Homo sapiens: one gene and its partners. The protein of the gene in region 1 purifies or fractionates together with the protein of each later gene. This does not show direct contact. Each region holds a gene or a part of one and is shown in the gene's direction. Other genes may lie near its edges.

Region 1 (5,128 bases):
TCTAGTTGCAGGAAAACAAGCTCAGGCCCCCACTGATTCTACAGGATGATGAGTTGTAGAATTATCTCATTATATGTTACAATGTAGTCATAGAAATAACGTGTACAATAAACGTAACGCACGTGACTCATCCTGAAACCATCTCACCCCCTGGTCCATGGAAAATTGTCTTCCATGAAACCAGCCCCTGGTGCCAAAAAGGTTGGGGACTGCTACCTCAGAACACCGAAGACCCGGCGCTAAGGGCAGCCTCGCACCCAGCCCGGGAAGGAAGTGCCGATAATAGAACCACCTCAAAGTTACCTTTATTGAGGCGTGTTTAAGATCCTCAAAAAGCTAAAAGAACAACATCCACTAAAAAACAAGTTGAGAAACAAGAAGACAAGCAGGAATAAAGAACAGATGGAAACGGAAGCGATCGCTGGGAAGTCCGGAGTGACACGGAATGGTGTGCTGGCACTACTTTGAGGAAAGGAGTTACCCAGCGAGGGAGAAAGGGGATGGGGTGGGCGGGAAGCGGCCACTCAGGCGTTCCTGATTAGCTCTACTTAATGTGATTATCTATATTTTGTGTATTTATGCCAGAAATGTTTAGCAGTTTTTAAAAGATGGTTCTTGCTAATTCCCGGAAATGAATGGAGTCATCGGAACTTCACACTCTGTGTACTGGGTCAACTCTAGACTGAATGTGGCTGAAAACAAAGTTAGTGACGTGAAAGCCAGGAATGTGGAATTCCTCAAGATCACGAGACAGAGAGGGGTGCAAGGCCTGGAGTGGGCGAAGGACACGGGACGGGGAGGGACGCGGGGCCTGGAGCGGGCAGAGGACACGGGATGGAGAGAGGTGCCGAGTGGGCCGAGAGGCTCCCGGGCTTTTCTGAATCCCAGGAGAAGAGAATGGAGGAGAGATGGTGCCTCAGAATCTTCCAGAACTGGAGACAGACATGAATTTTCAGATTCACAGTACACACGGCGCTGGGCAGAAAAACCGCCGCCTGCTGAACTCTGAGGTCCGGGGGCCTTTGTCACTCATTCTCTCACCTTTGCTTTTCTGTTTTTATTCTTTAGTAACAAACATCCTGTTCCCACTGACTCTGGAACAAGTTCAGTCCATGCGATTGTTGGGAATTCACTCACTTTTTAAAACAGGAGCTGGCGGAAAGGCTGCACGCGTTTGGGCATCTGAGCGCATTTGGGCATCTGGGCCACGGCCCCCTGTTTATTTTCACTACAAAAGGTTCCTTGAGAGGCCCCTTGCCTATTAGTGCCAGCTCTGGGCTTCCCAGGGTGAAGTGTTGGATGAATCATGGCCTCCTTGGTGGGGAAGGAAGGATGTCCTGAGTTGGGAGCACAGACATCCAGGCCTCCCAGGACAGACAGACACAAACATGAACAGCAGACAGGCCAGCGTGAGCCGATTCTGCCTGGCTTAGTCGTGCATGAAAGGAACCCTAAACTGGTACAAAAGTGGACCTGCAGGCCATCCAGGGAGTGACCATCGTAAAAACACAATAGCCAGTGCCACTCTGTGTACTTCCATAGTCGACCGCGCCAGCAGGAGGCCTCGGAGGATCCTGTCCGGGCCCATAGATGTTTGCTAGCGGGACAAGCTTGGGTGAGTTGAGCATCTGACTCCGTCCTTCCTCCTGAGACACGTGCAGCGAGGGCACCCACTGTGCAGCGAGGGCTCCCGCCGTGCAGTGAGCATACCCCCTGTGCAGTGAGGGCACCTGCCGTGCAGTGAGCATACCCCCCATGCAGCAAAAGCACCCCCCATGCAGCGAGGGCTCCCGCTGTGCAGTGAGCATACCCGCTGTGCAGTGAGGGCACCTGCCGTGCAGGGCTGCTTCAGGGTTTGGCACCATAATGCCTGGATGTGCTCCGTGGCTTCCTCCTTGGTGCCTGTGTTTGGTGGCTGGAAGGCCCAGCACCCTCAGGGCCCAGAACCCTCAGGGAAGTGCCTGGGCATCTGCCAGGAATTAACCCACTGGGTCCCACTTGTCTCAAAGCCTGGCTTGGTAGGATGGCCTGAACTTTGGATGTTTTTCATGCCTTTCGTTACATAGGATCCTCTTGCTGAGGGTGGATCATGCCCTCCACATTGCAAAAGCATCAGAGACCCAGCCCACCCTCGCGTCTGCAGCGGGAAGATGGGCCTGGTGCCAGGCGCGGGCAGCCGCCCCTCCCAGCGTCGGGAAGATGGGCCTCATGCCAGGCATGGGCAGCTGCCCCTCCCAGCGTCGGGAAGATGGGCCTCCGGGTGGTTTTGCGACTCAGTCATCTGCGAATTTCCGGATGCTGCACAGAAGGGGGTGCCAAAGTTTTTTTAAGATGATGTAAAAAAAGCATAAATTTGATAAAAATTATGTCCATTAACCTCATAAGTTTCTACCCATCGGGAAGGATCATCCTTCTGTTTTCAGCAGCAGAAAACTGACCACAGTAGGGGGTTGTCTGTCACTGAGTCCTCAGCTCTGGTGGGAGGGCAGGGTCAGAGCTGGGCAGGGTGGCCAGCTCGGGGATCTGAGCATCTGGGAGCAGGAGGTGGAGGGCCAGGTGAGCACACAGCTGCGAGGAGGTGGAGGACCAGGTGAGCACACAGCTACAGCTACAGGGAGGCTCTGCGCCTGCAGGACAGGTTATTACAGGGGCCGCAGCAGGGCCTGGGCCGCCTCCACTCTGTTGGCTGGGGTTCAGGGGTCCCAGGTCGCCAGGAGCACCTTGCATGTGGCTCGGGATGCACGGAGTCTCCCGTGAGGTGTGGGTTTCTTAGGACCCCAGGGCAGGTGTCCCATGGGAGTATGAACTAAATGCCTTTGTGGACGTTTAGACGTGAAATGTCTGCTCTAGACTCACACACCTGTCTCGCTCCCTCCTTCCAGAACTCTTAAAACGCCTAGATGACGTGTCCAACGATGTGAGGATGGCAGCCGCCTCCACCTTGGTCACCTGGCTGCAGTGTGTCAAGGGTGCCAACGCAAAATCCTACTATCAGAGCAGTGTCCAGTACCTGTACCGAGAGTTGCTGGTTCACCTTGACGATCCAGAGAGGGCCATCCAGGATGCAATTTTAGGTGAGACTCCGACGGCTTGGCCTTCGTTCCGATGCCTGCTTTCGGCGCCTGCCACGGGCATCTGTAGCTGAGCCGTGTGACCGGCCACAGGGCCCTGGGGCACAGGAGGGGCCTCAGCTCCGGCCTGGCACACTCTTGAGTTCTTGGCAAACCCTGAGAGCGGCTGTCTTTGTGGTGATAGCTGCTGACATTTCCTCTAACAGAAATCAAAACTGAGAGTATTCTAGAATACTTGTTAGTTGTTTAAAATAACAATAGTAAGCCCAGTATATATTGACACAGATGGCTTGTGTTTTTGAAAAATACTTTCCAAAACAAAATCATCTGCAAGAACGATTTTTGCAAATGTCTTAAATGTGTAGCTTGATGGAAGACACTGGACTTTCACATCTTCCATACAGTCAGTCATGATGTGTATGGCTCTGGCTGAAATACGTGGAAAATAATCTGGCCTCGCCTGTGGCTTCAAGTGTAGTTGGACAAAAGAAGAGTATTTTAGTAGCCTTTTCAGATAGGCGTGGGACTTCTTCAATACCACGCCAACAGCGACACAGGCCGTCCCTTGAAGGTCACTCACAGCACAGGGCCTGAGGCCACACACCACAGAGCCTTCCACGCTCAGTGCATTAAAATCCGCTGGTCCATCTCACACTTGGAATGTAACGATTTGCTTTTTTTTTTCTTTTTTTTTTTTTTGTTTTGTTTTGTTGTTGGTGAATATAATGACGTTGTTCTTTTTTTTAATAAAATTTGTATTTTTAATTTTTGTGGGTACACATAGGTGTATATAAGGCATGTGTGATACTGTGATACAGGCATGCAGTGTGTGTAAATCACATTGGGGAAATGGGGTCCCCGTCACTTCAAACACTTACACTTTCTTTGTGTTACAAATAATTCAGTGATACTTTTCGTTATGTTTAAATGTGTGATAAATTATTGTTGACCATAGTCACCCTGTTGTGCTATCAAATACTAAATCTTACTCATTCTGTTTTTGTACTCATTAACCATCCCCACCTCTTCCCCCGGCCCCATTCCTCTTCCGAGCCTCTGGGAGCCATCCTTCTGCTCTATCTCCATGAGTTGAATTATTTTTATTTTTAGTTCCCACAAATGAGAATGTGCGGAATTTGCCCTTCTGTGCCTGACTTATTTCACTTAACATAGCGACCTCCACTTCCCTCCATGTTGATCCAATGACTGGATCTCATTTCTTTTGTGGCCGGATAATATTCCACTGCGTGCGCTCCACGTTTTCCTTCTCCCTTCATCTGTCCGTGGACACCCCGGTTGCTTCCACACCTTGGCTGTCGGAACAGTGGGGCATTCGGCGTGCGCGTGCAGCTCTCCCCCATAGCTGAATTCCTCTCTTTTGGGTATTTGCCCAGAAGTGGGATTGCCGGGCTGTATGGGGCTCTATTTTTAGTTTTGGAGGGACCTCCAGACTGTTCTCCCAGCGGTGCTCATTTACATTCCCACCAGCAGCGTGAGGGTTCCCTTGTCTCCACATCCGCGCCGGGACTTGTTTCCGCAGCCATTTTAACTGGGGTCAGAGGATGTCTCACTTGTTTCTATGTGCATTTCTCTGAGGAGCGGTGGTGGTGGGCACCTTTTCAGACGCCTGTTTGTCATTTCCATGCTGTCTTTTGAGAGCTGTCTGTTCAGGTCTTTTACCCATTTTTAATTGGATTATTAGATTGTCTGCTATTGAGCCTGAGCTCCTCATATATTCCAGTGATTAATCCTTGTCAGGCGGCGGTTCTAAGATACAGTCTCCCATCCCGTACCCGCGGGCTGTCCCTGCGGCTGTACTCTGCTCATTCTTCCCTTTGCTGTGTGGAAGCTTTGGGCCTGGATGTGCTGACTTTGCCTTTTGCCTCCTTTGGAAAATACTTAGACCTTCCCCGCGCAGCTGCGTCCGGTTTCCCGGCGTGGCTACATCCGGTTATGCGATGTCGGATCTTCCTGGTGTGGCCGCCTCCCGTCGCGCAGCGTCAGAAACTCGGATCTTCGCGGCGTGGCCGCCTCCCGACACGCGGCGTCAGAAACTC
Region 2 (5,128 bases), on another chromosome or scaffold:
TATTTAAAATCCTATAATAATTTTTGTGAATCTTCATTCTTTGAGTATGGGATTGTAAAAGACAAACTATATCCTACAGTAGTATCATCATCAGTATCAAAGGTCTCCTTTTTTTACTTGGAAAAGTAATTCACAAACATTATAAAAATACTATTCAAACAGTACCAAAGAGTAGATTAGCAAAAGTAAGTTTTTTTCCCTAGCCTGTCTCATTTTTCCATCATTACACAGACTACTTGGAATGTCTTAGATGTCCTTGTATTGTAATTTTCTGTGTAGGTAGAAATAAATGTAGCTTTCTTATTTTACACAAATAGGAACTTACTGTATATACTGTTCTGCACTTTGCTTTTATTAAAGATCTTTTGATAAAGAACTATATTGATAAGCAGTAAAGATGTCATGCTCCTGGCCCAATAAAATATTGTTAGCATTGTCATAAATATGTCTTTTCCACCGGCGATGGTTGGGTAGTTAAGTGAATAAGCTAGAAAGACATGTTTATAAAGCTATTTGATGACAATCTCAGGCATATTTATACAGAGATGTTCTTAACTGTTTGCTACAAAAACATGAAGATCAAAAACTTTCTTGAAGCTTACGCTTAACTTATTTGGGGAAACAAAACTCCAGCCCTTCTTGTGTATGTTCTGATATCCCTTTGCTCTACTTTTAGAGGAGTGAACCCTAATAGGATGGTAGCAGCATTCTTGTTTCTTTATATCTCTCCTCTGTGATTGTATACCGTTTTTTCAACTTAAAGCAACTTCAGCTGGAAATATGTAGAGGTTGGCCAAGGTGAACTAAATAGTCTGTAACATTGATTAGATATCAAGCAACGTGAGCATGGTAGCAAAAGCACTAACTGAAGCCAGTGATTTAATTTTTAATTCTGATTCTGATAATTGATGATATAGCTCCTCGAACTTTGTTTTTTGTTAAAACTTGGAAAATATATTTGTATTATTTTGGACAAATTATTTGAACTCTCTGGACCTTGATTCAATTTATATATAAGGTAAAGGCATTATACTGGATTATCCTGCAATTTCTTTGAGTTGTTAGAATATAATGTAGCTTATTAATAGCAATATTAGCAGTGTAGTAGATTCTGACTGCAAAACCTAGCCTTTTCTATTGATTCATTAGTGGTAGTAAAGGTATTATCTGATTTATCCTTTTTAATAGGCAGTGCTTTGATCAAGTGGGAAATAGTAATGGACAAATAAAATCAATGATCATTATCTAACTTGATGCCTGCTTTTCAAAAAGTGAGCAAATTTCACATCTTCACCCTTAGACATTAATTCATGGCACCTACTATAAGTACTCATCCTCTTCTTACCTATCTTCTTTTCTATAGGAGATAAAGTGGTTATTCAGACCCCCCAATACAATTTTTTGGTTTGTTTTCACAGCTACTTAAAAGATTAAAATAACTATTCTTGCAGATATTTCTAGGAATATTTTTAGAAATAATATGAAATACAGGGATAATAGGCCAATTATGATCTTTATTTTTAATTTCTACAGAAAAGTACTAGAGAATATATCTATAGAAACTTCTTTCAGATAACCCTAAAGATGATACTAGAATGTTTATAAAATTATTGAGAAGATTATTTGTGTTATAAAGCTTATTTGTACCATAGTAAAGGATGTTTTTGTTCCTCTTCATTCTGGGCTAATCTGTCAATACTGAAGTCCAGTCTTTTCCCCCTTTTCTTACCAGCTCAACCTTGATTCCTGTGACCCATTCTTTCTGATCTTTCGTAGTTCATAGTCACCAGGCATGAGTACCTTGGATAGCCCTCTGAAGTCTGTTACCACCCAGATTTCCAACTCGGGTTAATTGGTACTAATTCTATTAGCTGGTATAAATAATCCAAAATCTGTGCAGACTCTGGGAGCAAAATGTTCTACTCAGTTTGGAATACTGTGCCTTAAAATATATTTCATTGTAACAGCACCTTGTATATATAGTTGGCCAAGGACAGAGTTGTTACAAGTTACGTGGAACTTTCATAGCAAATCTTGACAGTAAATACCTTGTTCTTGTATTAGGTCTATATCCTGAATTGACCTTTAGCAAGAATCTTTAGATCTGCTGGAGGGCTGGGATGGCTTTTGGACTTCAGTGAAAAAGAATTTCTGCTACTCATTGTTGATAACGCTTCAGTACTGTATAAATGTTTATCCTTTTCCACGTAATTTGTTTTCTATGATATGAGAACTTTTATTATAATTTGCCTCAGTCTTGATAGAATCTTAACAAAAATAAAATCTGTGGTCGTCTGAGGTATTCTCCATGCTATAACCCAGTTTAGCTGATGCATTTGGAGCTTGGGTGCTGAAATTAAATATAACCTATTTGAGTTAAGGATTTATTACTAGTGCTCCAGTGGTCACAGGAACAATAAAAAAGGAACAACGATAGAAATACGTGATCTAGGAAAGAAGGCAACTGAAAAACCTGAAAGAAAAAAAATGAAAGATTAAAAGTATACGATATTCTATTTTGATTTAGCAATTACTTGTTTTCTAGTGTTCTGTCAATTTTTGGTGACTTTTATAATTACATTAAAACTAAGATGCTGAATTAAAATAAAGTTTCTCTTTTATTCAAGCACCAACATTCACTTATATTACCTATATATTGCATCAAGTTTTGAGCCTTCAATCCCAGAAGCATTGATTGACTGTCTACTGTGGTTCAAGTACTGTGCATAAAGATGAATAAATATTCTGTCCTTGGCTTAGTCTAATAGTAAAGGCACTCTTAGAGGAGGGACAAATATTTTGCCTAGATAAGATTTGAGAGATAGTAAGTGCGGAATTTCTCTTCATAAAAATGGTAGTGTTAGTTGTTTAGAGGGAGAAGTCCAGCTATGTAAGGTGAAAGTGGGGCTTATAAAAGTGGATCTATTGTTTAAAAATTAGTACTTTGCTCCTAAAATTTTTACCTAAGTGTTACATCCAACAACAGATGAAAGTAATTCGACAGTAGCATCTGCTTTATTCATTTCATATTTCCAGTGCCTGACATATTGCTTGGCATATAGTAGTTTAGTGGATGTGTTTGATGAATGAATGAGTAAAAATTATTTTTCATGTTAAAATAAAACTTTGAATTACATGAGTATACAACTTTTGTTCCTTCAAAATACCCATATTTGTCAAATATGACCGAATTACGACTTTTTTTCTGTTCCACTAGTTTCTACCTTAGAAGTGACATTCTGCGTAAGGTAGTGGGGGATTACTAAGTGATCATGACTTTTCTGAAGCAGGTCTTAAATAATTATCTAAGCCTTCAGTCATTTCAAAATCTCTGTAGTGTAAATGATCACAGGCTCTAAATCAGATTGTTGTACAAGGTAATTGACATGTCCTGAAATGTAACATTCAACATTAACAGTAGAAACAGGCCTCATTTCTCCCTCTGGCTTTTATTGATCAATTTTGATATTGTCCAGATCCCATGTTAAACCACTTGATTTAGAGATGACTTAATTCTAAACTTCCTCCATTTTTAATTAATAAGATTCAAGGTTGCAGTAAATTGTTAATCTTATTTGGAATTATATTAGAAAGTCGATATCGGAATTGGAACCACACATCTTTTTCTTATTGTGGGTACATGGGATCTTTCCCAAATAAATTCCTGAGCAACAAGAAAATCTGAGACTTGTTTTAAATGCTAAAATGATTAGTTGGAATAATGTATACATTCATGAGATGACTAAAGCACTAGTGGGGTAGTTTCTACTGCAGTAGACTGATTTTTCTTAGCCCAAACCTTGAAAGATGAATGTTTTAGTAGATGGAGAGTAGGTGGGGATGATATTTTAGATATGGCAGAAGCAACTTGAGTTACAGCAATTGGGGAGGGGATTAGAATATTGTGATTAGGAGAAGTGAGGAGAAGAGTGGGAGAGAAGACTGAAGGATATCTGACACCTTCAAACACACCCTCAAACACAAACATTGGCTAAAAAAGTTGATGCAGTTCAGGGTGAAATCACACACATGATTGACATAAATAACATTGTGGAAAAGTGACTTTGCAAAGACCACACAGGTAGTTGCAGAATAGAACTTACTGGTTATAATTTTTTTGATATTTTACTGAATAGCATATGGTTTATTAAATTTTTTTCAAAATTAATTTGGCAACATTTCTTAGCTTCTCTGACTCATTCTATTGGGAAAGCTGATAGCAAGATTCCTGTGCTAGACTACTAGAGGGAGGTATCAGATGACCAAGTCATGTCTGATACTATAGTTACCAGATAGTTACCAGGCTAATGTGCTGAACTAAGGAAGGAGCCTAAAACTCAGCAGTCTTTTTGAGATTGGATTGGACTTTATGAATAGGCAATGAGCTCTTAAAAACGACATTCCATATACAGAAAAACTATGGGGATTTCAGACTGCCTAATTTAGCTTCTCCACGGGGCATACTTGAGGTCGTTCACATTTTGGCTATGTATCTCCACATTGGTGCTAAGTTTGTGTACCTCGTTTCTGATTTCACTAATGCTGAAAGTTCAACTTGCCAGTGACCTAAGTGGATCTTTTATGAATTAGAAAGTACCTCACTTGGCTTTTGAAGACTGGTAAAACATTTTTAGGCTACAAATAAAAGGGAAGTTTGTAATGATGTTATAAAATACAATGCTTGGCATGTGGCAGATGCTTAAACATTTGTTGAATAAAGTTATCTTCCTTTTAAGATGGTCCATTGAAAAAATGGAGCAGCCGTTATATGTCTATATATGTTTTAATGACCTCAAGCTCAGAGATCTGCTAGTGATCTCACCTTTAGATAACATCTGAGTTGAATGTCTGTGGAGTCCCCTGCCACTGGTATATCTCAAAAGAAATAGCATTATTTGGTCTGGGCAGTACTGTCTTTGTCTATTTATCTATCTTCACCTCTATAAAGTGGGAGGTTGCAACTCTGTGGGCAGTATTCCTCAGGGCACTAGAACAATGAATGAAATGGTGTTACGTATTTTCCCCTCAAGGAGAAATGACTTCTTAAACCCCAAGTGGAAGATTTTTCATTCCGTCATTAGTATTCTAGTATTCTTTTTGAAATTGAAGTAGCAACATGCCTTTGACC
Region 3 (5,128 bases), on another chromosome or scaffold:
TGGGTTTATGTTACTCTACAGAGCACCTTTCTGGGCACCAGAGGGGAAATAAACGTAACTGAGATAATGTTTTTCCCAGACAGGTTTATTGAGACATAATTAGATATAATAAAATTCACCATTCCTAGTGTATAACTCTAAGTTTGACAAACCTCTACAACATAGTCATAATCATAACCTCTACAAAGTCAAGATGTAGAACAGTTCCATCACTCCCAAAATTTCCTTGCACCCTATTGTTGTCAACCCCTCCTCCAGCTCCAGCCCTCTACATCTAATGATCTGTTTTCTGTGTCCCTCTACTTTTGCCTTTAAGATAACTTTCAAAGAGAAGAATGTAAAAATAACTAACTAAGGTAGAATGTAATAAATACTGTAATTGTGTGGGGATGTAGAGAGGTGAGTAAGGTCAGTTACAAGTTTGGGGGCGCCAGTGAAGTTGTGACTTATTTAATTTACTTTTCAAAATTACAGAGAACTGTGCTTTCCAAGAGGAATATTAATTCTTTAAAACAGCAGTATTCTTCCTCATATTGGCAGTGGATACTCACAAAATGCGATTGCCTAGTTCACATGGTTCTTTGCTAAATAATTATGTACACAAACTTTTATTTCAGTGAATTTGGGTGGTTTGAAGGATCACATAAAGGAGATCCAGAGATGCCGGCGTTTGATTCTTATTGCTTGTGGAACAAGTTACCATGCTGGTGTAGCAGTAAGTGCTTTTTAAAATTTTAATTATGTTGAATATTAGAGAATATCTGTAGACCAAGTAGTAGTCTAATAACATACTGTGTAAAACTATGTTTTGTTAATGTGTTATCTTTTCCCTTTTGTGATAAAAAAAGAAGGTAAGGGGAGAAATTTACCAGCTGCTTGGAATTATTTATCCATGGAAGATCTGTAGAAAAGGTCCCTAGATATACAGATAGACCTCCTGCAACGGACTTCATGAAAGGCCAAGAGGGGGAGAGTTTGTGTACTGTCCTAGACTTGTAGCCTAGGGAGCTTGCCTACATGTGTAAGAGCCATCGTTGGGTTTTGCTTAGCATTGTTCACTTGCCCTAGACAGATGGCCTGCATCATGTGTGAACCTCAGTGCAATTTTACTTTGTGGGCACATTACTGCAAAGAAAGGTAGTCTGCTTTTTTTTTTAAATCAGATTTTATTCTTTAAATTGTTCTTTTAGAAGCTGAAATTCAGTATCAAAAATGTGTATTGTCAGTGCAGAAGCATAGGTGTATGAGGGTCTTTTATTCCAATAAAAGACCAATATTTGCCCACGTAGTTTCCTTAGAAAGAGACAGTTTATGTGTTGCTGATGTCAACTGTTATGAACAGAAGACCTTTACATTCAATTTCTGCTTTTAGGATTGACTTCCAAAGTTCCTGACATAACTTATTTATTTGCTGAGGCATAAATATTTATTAGGAGCCATTTATTTAAGCAGTGAGTGAAACTATCTGGTCACCTGCCCTTGCATCTCAACAAGCTTTGCTCTTTTCTAAGACTACACCAAATACCTCCTCCCCTCCTCCCCCAAAATTATATGGTCCTAAACAGAAAGTCTATGTAATGTTGAAGGGTAGAGGTCTAAAAAAGTGATTGTTTTGTCTGGGTGTTGTGGCTCACACCTGTAATCCCAGCACTTTGGGAGGGCAAAGTGGGAGGATCAGTTGACCCTAGGAGTTTGAGCCTGGGCAACATAGCGAGACCCCGTCTCTACCAAAAAAAAAAAATTATCGGGGTGTGGTGGCAACTCCCTGTAGTCCTAGCTACTTGGGAGGCTGAGGCAGGAGGATCGCTTGAGTCCAGAAGGTGAGGCTGCAGTGAGCCTAGATTGCACCGCTGAACTCCAACCTGGGCGACAAAACCAGGCCCTGTCTCAAAAAAAAAAAAAAATTTTGAACACGGGAAGAAGAAAGATGTAAACACGTTAGTGGTGGCTTAGATCTATTACTGAATGAGCCCTGTATTCAGAAATAGAAAATTTGATTAAACGCTTCATCTAACGCTAAGACAATTTGGGGGCAGAAATTATATACTCTGTTAGAATTCTCTAATGTAAGATTTTTTGTTGTTTTGTGGATGCCAAGACTACTGTAGTAAACAAACATTAGAAATCCCCCTGTGGTTTATCAGACAAAATAGTACCATTTATTTTATCCTGTTTTACATTTTTGTTGTTGTTTCATGACACATTTACATGTTTTTTTTTTAGTATCTATATCCTGAATAACTGACTACACTCTAATCATTCTTAACTCATTTATGCCAGAGGTTGCAAAATTTTTTTGTGAAAAATCATCAGACCTTGGTGCTGACCTTGAGCAGTAGGATATAAATAACTCCCACATGCTTAACGTTCCAGTGATGGAACACTAGGCATAAATGATTTAAGTATAGCCTACTTAATATGCTTTTCAAAATTTTAATTTTCTCTAGGTTTTGTAGTGGCATTCAGTGGAATTTATAGCATTAAGTTACTCTATTGTGATGGAAATATGTCATTTTGTGTATTTATAAAAAGTTGTTCGCAGCTGGGTGCAGTGGTGTGTGCCTATAGTTCCAGCTCCTCGGAAGCTGGGGCAGGAGGATCACTTGAGACCAGGAATTTGAGGCCACAGTGCCCTAGAATCATGCCTCTGAATAGCTGCTACACTCCAGCCTGGGCAACAAACCAAGACCCCATCTTTAACCAAAAAAAAAAAAAAAAAAAAAAAAGTTGCCCCAACTAAAATAATAAACTATTAATTAGCACAGATAAATCTTGAGATTACTTTTTTGGGGTTTATTACTTTTAAATATCTGGTAAGCCTCCAGATTTCTATCTTTCTCTCTTCTTTCCCCATCTTTTTATTTTGAAGAATATGATTCCAATGTAACATTTATATTATAAACTGGGTGAAAAGGTTTGGTTTACATTTATTTGTGGGAAAACATTTAGCATTTTAGTGTCGGTAACTTAATTATGTATAATAAAATATATTAATGGAAAAGAATAATAAAAAATAGGAGCATTTTATCTTCAATGATTTTCTTTACATGATGTTGTAATATTGTTAAAAAATGCCAAATCAAAGTTATTTAATATTTTTGGGGGAACCAAGTAAAACGATTCTGTTCAAATTTGTGGGCAAGCAAAAGTTAAGGGCTATGAAATAAGGGCACCTTTAAGTTCTTTATTGCTGAGAAGGAGGAAAGCTGAGATGGGTGAGAGATGGGGAGGGCCACTTGCCTGAAGAGGCTGGTGAAAGGCTGTCAGGTTAGGTGAGCTCCACAGTTAGAATTAAAGCAACACTAAATGTATACATTGGTTGAGCTTAAAGTTTTTGCTGCCTAAAAGATAATTTTTCTGTTTTTGATTTTCCGATGTTTAGTGTAAAAATAATTAGAATGGAAATTTACTGAAATGAAGGTTAAACTACGTTTTGCACAGAGGCATACTGCTCCCTACTTCATTCCCCCTGCCCCATGCCACAAAAGTTGAAAATAGTGAGCCCTGTTAAACAAGATTTCTAAAATATATTGACTTCTTTTGGGAAATGGTCATATTTATGAATACGTTGTACTTTTAAAGTGTTTAATTTTTCTCTATATATTTGTACATCTGTTACCTGATTTGAAACCCCTCCCTAACATGGGTATTACATGAATTTTCATTTTAAAGATTAGGAATTGGGAGGTTAGAGATAACACACAAGCTGACTCAGAACCATGCTCTTTCCACTTCTCAAAACGTTTTATATGTGTGGGTATGTTTCCTTATAAGAATGTATGTGTCCAGGCGCAGTGGCTCATGCCTGTAATCCCAGCACTTTGGGAGGCTGAGGCGAGCAGATCATGAGGTCAGGAGATTGAGACCATCCTGGCCAACATGGTGAAACCCCATCTCTACTAAGCTGGGCATGGTGGCGCACGCCTATAGTCCCAGCTACTCAGGAGGCTGAGGCAGGAGAATTGCTTGAACCCGGGAGGCGGAGGTTACGGTGAGCCGAGATGGCACCACTGCACTCCAGCCTGGCGACAGAGCGAGACTCCGTCTCAAAAAAAAAAAAAAAAGGAATGTATACATAGATAGTTGTCTAAAGAGACTGATAGTAAAATGTTAGCCATGCTTATCTCAAGTGGTAGGATTTTGATTTTTTTTTTTTAAATATTTTAATCTGGGTTGTTTTTATTTTCTAACGTGTCATTTTTGTAATCAGAAAAAGCAAAAACTATACATTGAATCCAAAGAAGTCCGATGAAAGAGTATTTGAAGGAAAGTTCTGTGACCAAGTCATATTTTCTCTGCAGACACGTCAAGTTCTTGAGGAGCTGACTGAGTTGCCTGTGATGGTGGAACTAGCAAGTGACTTCCTGGACAGAAACACACCAGTCTTTCGAGATGATGTTTGCTTTTTCCTTAGTCAATCAGGTGTGTTAATTTTAAAGACTTAAAAGGAAGGAAAGTTATTCTTTCTAATAATTCTAGCATATCTTGGCAAAAGCTGATATTTAAAGATAAACTGGCATTGCAGATGACTTGACGAATACAGATTTATTTTAATGTTACATAATTCTTTATGAATTAGTAAAAATGAACACCTTTTGTGTTCAAAGAGCTGGATTTTCAATGACAGAGAAGGAAGAGAGATCCTGACAAGCCATATTACTTAAAGTTTTATAAATTTATTAAGTGGATGTTTTGTATTTTATTTAAAACAAGTAATATTGTTGAAAGTGTGGTCAATTTGTTTTTGCTCCTAAGAAACAGCATATGTTAAAACTGTTCTGTGTGTTATGGTTGGCCTACTTTTTACACAGGTGAGACAGCAGATACTTTGATGGGTCTTCGTTACTGTAAGGAGAGAGGAGCTTTAACTGTGGGGATCACAAACACAGTTGGCAGTTCCATATCACGGGAGACAGATTGTGGAGTTCATATTAATGCTGGTCCTGAGATTGGTGTGGCCAGTACAAAGGTAAATTCTTGACTCATTTCTCTGATGATTATTTAATCATAGTGTCAGTGAAGCAGACTAGTCTGTAGACTAGTCTGTATCTTATTTTTGTTAGCAGTTATAGAACTCACACATTTTATTTTTGTTAGCAGTTATAGAACTCACACATTTTACTAATCA
Region 4 (5,128 bases), on another chromosome or scaffold:
TCATAGATGACTTTAAGGGGTTCAGGACTTCAGTAAAGAAAGTAACTGCAGATGTGGAAATAACAGGAGAACTAGAGGCGGAGTCTGAAGATGGGATGGAATTGCTGCAATCTCAGGATCAAGCTTGAACAGATGGGGACTTGCTTCTTGTAAATGACCAAAGAAAGTGGGTTTTTGAGATGGAATCAACTGGTGAAGATGCTGTGAACATTGTTGAAATAACAGAGGATTAGAATAACACATAAACTCAGTTGATGAAGCAGCAGCAGGGTTTGAGAGGACTGACTCCAACTTTGAAAGAAGTTCTACTGTGGGCAAAATGCTATGAAACGGCACCGCATGCTCCAGAGAAATATTTCATGAAAGGAAGTCAATCGATGCAGCAAACTTCATTGTTGTCTTATTTTAAGTAATTGCCACAGCCACCCCAACTTTGAGCAACCACCACCCTGTTCAGTCAGCAGCAGTCACTTTCAAGGAAGACCCTTCACCAGCAAAAAGATTACCGCTCTGAAGGCTCAGATGATTGTTAGCATTTTTAGCAATAAACTACTTTTTAACTAAGATATGTACATTGTTTTCTTAGACATAATGCTTATTGCACACTTTATAGACTATAGTGTAAACAAAACATATGCATTGGGAAACAAAAAAATTAGTGTGCCTTGCGTTATTGCATAATTTGCTTTATTGTGGTGGTCTGGAGCTGAACCTGCAGTATCTCTGAGGTATGCCTGTATATCCTTCCAGACTTTTTTCTCTTTTTATGTAATAAGTAATAACTAAGTTTGTAGATAGCTGGAGATATAGCTGCTTTTGCCTAACAGTATGCCTTCATTTTCCTTTACATATGTACAGCAACTTCAGATTGTCAAAATGTCCAGTGGTTTTTTTTTTTTTTTTTTGTGAGGATGTATAATAATTTTCCTATTGCTAGAAATGAGTTCCTTTTATGTCCATCTTACATATGCTAGTGGGCCTGAAGGATAGATTCCTGGAAGTGGAATTACTGAGTCAAAGGTTATATCCATGTTAAAACTGGACAGATTCTATTATGTTATCCTCCAAGTCTGCTATATTACTAGAGCATATATGTGTTTATTCTTTGAATTTTTTTGTAGTTTTAGTCATACATAACATTTTATACATTTTTAAACAGTGTATTGTTTTAATAACAATGTGTTGCTTTCCATAAATTTATGTTGTATTTATAATTATAACTTTGAAAATAGTCCTATCCCATCAGGAATATGTTTCATTATTTTCCTAGCCATTGCTGGACTTCTAGGCTGCCTCCCTTAAAAAATAAAAAATTATAAAGAATTCTGAAATGCACACATTCATGAATGTAGCTTTACCCTTTTAGGTAATCTTCTTAGAGTAAGTATTATAGGTTATAGGTAATCTTAGAGTAAGGGTTAAAGGTTAGGAATATTTTGTGACTTTGGGAAATCATAGTAATTTTTTTCCCGAAGTAATTCTGCCTGCCTTGACTTTTTGGTGTGCTGTTTTTATCTTAGTCTTACCAGCATTAGGTCCCATCTGTAACACGTTTTTCTCCTTTGCTAATTTGAAAGCAACAGTGGTAATTGAACCAAGTATTTGATAGGCATGCTGAAGGGAAAGCAGTAGGAGAGACTGGCCTGAGTGTTAAGGCACAGAAGAGTCGGGGGCTCGGGGAGATCTTGGCTCTGCTGGAACAATTAGTGAGGTGAAGAATTCTAGGACCTGGATGACATGCCAGGGAGTGTGATTTAATAGCTGATAGGGAGCCACTGCAGACTCTAAGCTGAGAAGTGCCTGAGTTCAAGGCTGCTGGTGACTGTGAAGGAGGAACGGGAGGAGGTGATAATGGCTGCGGCAGGAGCTGTGGACATGACAGAGAAGATGGGCTTCTCTTGTAGTCATCATAGGAAAAATTCTTGAGCTAGATAGGGCCTAGGTGGTGTAATTTGGAAACCAAGAATGACACATAGCTTGTGGCTGCCTCAGCAAAGTTCGAATCCCAGTCTTACAGGGATGTGGTGAGCTGACGTGCCCTCTTCCCTCTGCAGGTCCAAGACAAGCTGCTGCTATCTGCGTGCCACTTACTGGTCTCACTGGCCACCACCGTGCGGCCCGTCTTTCTGATCAGCATCCCTGCAGTGCAGAAAGTATTCAACAGAATCACTGATGCCTCTGCCCTGCGACTTGTCGATAAGGTGAGGCCCCAGAGCTCCCCCGGGGTCCCCAGGGCTGTGTGACTGAGACCCAAGGAAGCTGAGGAAGAAGAGTCTGGCCTTTGATTTTGTACTCAGAGCTTACAGGCTGTACCAGCATAGACAGATTTCTTATTGTGTGGCACTGACACAGACTCAGTGATTCTCATCGTGCCCATTCTAAGGCAGGCAGTCAGTGTGCTGATTGAGGCGTGGAAAAGCACCTCCCAGTGTGCAGAAAGGTTTTGCTGCTTTGCAGCCTGGTAATTTCGGCCAGTGTTGTGAGAATTCTCTTTGCATTCTTTCTGATTCAAAGCAGTCTGGTTTTTGTTGTCACTGTTCTGTGTGTGTTCTTTGGGGTTGAGAAGTGCCAGGCAAGTGCATTTTCTTAGAATCCTCAAAGGAGGCTCAAGCTAGAAGTTTAAAAACCACCTAACAGGAGGGAGGGCAGGAAGGTTTGAAGAGGGTACCAGAGGGCACCAGGATGTGATTGCAGGATGTGACCTGGTGCTAGGGGCATGGATTGTCACGGATTCTCCTGCAAGTCCTGCTCTAAGTAGCTTCTCAGAGGACTCAGAAGCCACCAGCTGAACAATGCCTGAGATTCAGTGTCTGCAGTGTGATTTTTCCCTCTCTAATACTTCAAGTATCAGATTAGAGAGGAAACGAGAGGTTAGCTCTGGGTTATGCTAGACCTAGACATGGTGCTATTACTTCATTTCATCTTCCTCCCTAAGTTGCCTTCCAGTTGGACCAAAGGCCTTGCCCAGGTTGCAAGAAACGAGCCTGGGGGCTAGGGTTCCAGGTGTGCAGCCAGCGGGTGCTGAAGGCTGTGTTGGGCATGCCGCACCACGGTCTTTGGCTCTGACCTCTGATGGATGCCTTTGGGGTCTCTTGTAGGCCCAGGTGTTGGTGTGCCGAGCCCTCTCTAACATCTTGCTGCTTCCGTGGCCAAACCTTCCAGAGAATGAGCAGCAGTGGCCCGTGCGCTCCATCAACCACGCCAGCCTCATCTCTGCACTCTCCCGGGACTATCGCAACCTGAAGCCCAGTGCTGTTGCCCCACAGAGAAAGATGCCACTGGATGACAGTAAGTGACCCCTAGGCTAGGACAGCTGGGGAAGGAGGTAGGCAGGCATTGTTCTTTGTGGCAGATGAGATTTGCCCCGGAGGCTCCTGAGGTAAATTTTTTTTGTTCATAGTCCCACAGAGGCTGAGCAGGAAGTCATACTTGGGGGTGGGATCCTGCTACCTTTGGAATTCAGTTAAGACAGCAGCCAGACCTATTTCCAGAATCAAACTGTCCCTTCTCTTATTTAAAATGTAAAAAATGCTGGAGCCCTAAGAAAAAATGGAAGACACTGGTGATGGTGCCTTCTGTCTATAAAATACATCTTAAGGTGGTTATTGATCTATTTCAGATGCTTGTGTAGGCAAACAAAGCAGTTCACCTCTACACGCTGGGAAAATGCGCTCAAGAACTATTTTTCCAGATTGGTTTCAACCTTTTTCCAAATACAGATCTTCCAGAGGTTTTGAAAGAGCTTAGTTTCTTAAAAAATGGCACTTGAAGTTTGCTTGTTTATATTAAAGAAAGAGGGAAAAAAATGAATAAGGAAATATCTCTTTGAAATAACAAATAGTACCGAAATATTTTAAAAATACGAGCTCCTTTCACAAAAAGAAAATAATAGAACATTATTAGATGGTGCCATTTATGGAATGTCAGCAAAAATGCTTTGTGAAATGTCAGAAATAGTAATAAATACTATACTCTTTAAAAAACACTACTTTTATAACTAGGAAGATTAACATATGTGCATTGTACAAATACATTAAAATAGAATAATACAAAGAAGGAAAAAGTAACTCCTAAATCTGACCAGTTTTAATATTTTAGAAAGTAACCATTTTAACCATGCTTCCTTCTTACCTTCCCTTTTCTATTTTAAAATATGCTTCATGGTTACATAGCTGGATGAGAGTAGCTGACATATTGAGGGTATACTGTGTACTAGGCTCTTGCCTTGGTGATTCTATATCCATCGTCAAGTCTCTGGCTATGCCAGTATCAACTTTCAAAGTCTGGTGTTGGTCTCTTCCTGGTTCTAAGTATTTTTCAAAAATCAGTAATTCATTCAGTTCTTACATTAGCCTTATGAGTTCGGTACTGTTAGGATCTTGATTGATGATTAGCATGAGGAAGCTGAGGTCTAGAAGATTAAGGAACTTGCCCAGGGCTTGCATCCAGCTGTTGTGGAGTCATGCTTTATCACGTGTAATGGTCTCCTTTCCGCACTTTATCTTACATGGGAGTTATGTTGGTCTGCATGGGCGAGGATATGCTCAGTGGTAACAAACAACTCCAAAAGTGTAGTGGCTTAATACAAGAAGAAAAAGGATATGTTGTTTGTACTATATGTCCAGCTTGGGTCAGCAGAGTGGGGAGGTCACATAGGGACCCAGGCTGTGGAAGGCTCCATTTCAGTGTGTTCACTCTGGAAGGGATTGTGGTGAATTGCGTAGTGGTTCTTAAAGGTCTTGCCTGAAACTAACACTACTTCCACCTCTATTTCCTTGGCCAGAGCCAGCTACATGGCCTTGGCTTAACTCAGAGGGCAGGGAGGTGTGATGCCACTGTGTGCTGAAAGGGTTTGCAGTGTAGTATGTGAATGACGTCTTCAGTATGCTGACTGTGTGCAGGCACTGGGTTGAGCACTTTGTATACGTTATTTCATGTAACTTCCTGTGTAACCCTGTAACCCTGTGAGGTATGTCTTATCCTCATTCCACAGTGTTGAAATTAAGGTTGGAAAGTTTCATTTTTCTTATCTCAACTTTATACTTTGAAAAAAAAAAATTCCAAACCTACAGACTAGCCAAAGGAATAAGAAAATGAACAACTGCATCTCTCTCACCCAGATTCACTA

Evidence for each region. The genes of interacting proteins can lie anywhere in the genome.
Region 2: the proteins of DNAAF5 (region 1) and ACTR3 fractionate together in Homo sapiens (co-fractionation; one large-scale study listed by BioGRID). This does not show direct contact.
Region 3: the proteins of DNAAF5 (region 1) and GFPT1 fractionate together in Homo sapiens (co-fractionation; one large-scale study listed by BioGRID). This does not show direct contact.
Region 4: the proteins of DNAAF5 (region 1) and XPO6 fractionate together in Homo sapiens (co-fractionation; one large-scale study listed by BioGRID). This does not show direct contact.

Annotation. Positions count from the first base shown.
Region 1 is NC_000007.14:777,071-782,198, forward strand, and holds part of DNAAF5 (dynein axonemal assembly factor 5), read left to right. Parts: intron 1-2,882; coding exon 2,883-3,074; intron 3,075-5,128. UniProt on the Homo sapiens protein: Cytoplasmic protein involved in the delivery of the dynein machinery to the motile cilium.
Region 2 is NC_000002.12:113,958,950-113,964,077, forward strand, and holds the end of ACTR3 (actin-related protein 3), read left to right. Parts: 3' UTR 1-3,647; downstream 3,648-5,128. UniProt on the Homo sapiens protein: ATP-binding component of the Arp2/3 complex, a multiprotein complex that mediates actin polymerization upon stimulation by nucleation-promoting factor (NPF).
Region 3 is NC_000002.12:69,337,739-69,342,866, reverse strand, and holds part of GFPT1 (glutamine--fructose-6-phosphate aminotransferase [isomerizing] 1), read left to right. Parts: intron 1-617; coding exon 618-715; intron 716-4,301; coding exon 4,302-4,422; intron 4,423-4,811; coding exon 4,812-4,969; intron 4,970-5,128.
Region 4 is NC_000016.10:28,109,977-28,115,104, reverse strand, and holds part of XPO6 (exportin-6), read left to right. Parts: intron 1-2,054; coding exon 2,055-2,201; intron 2,202-3,098; coding exon 3,099-3,288; intron 3,289-5,128. UniProt on the Homo sapiens protein: Mediates the nuclear export of actin and profilin-actin complexes in somatic cells.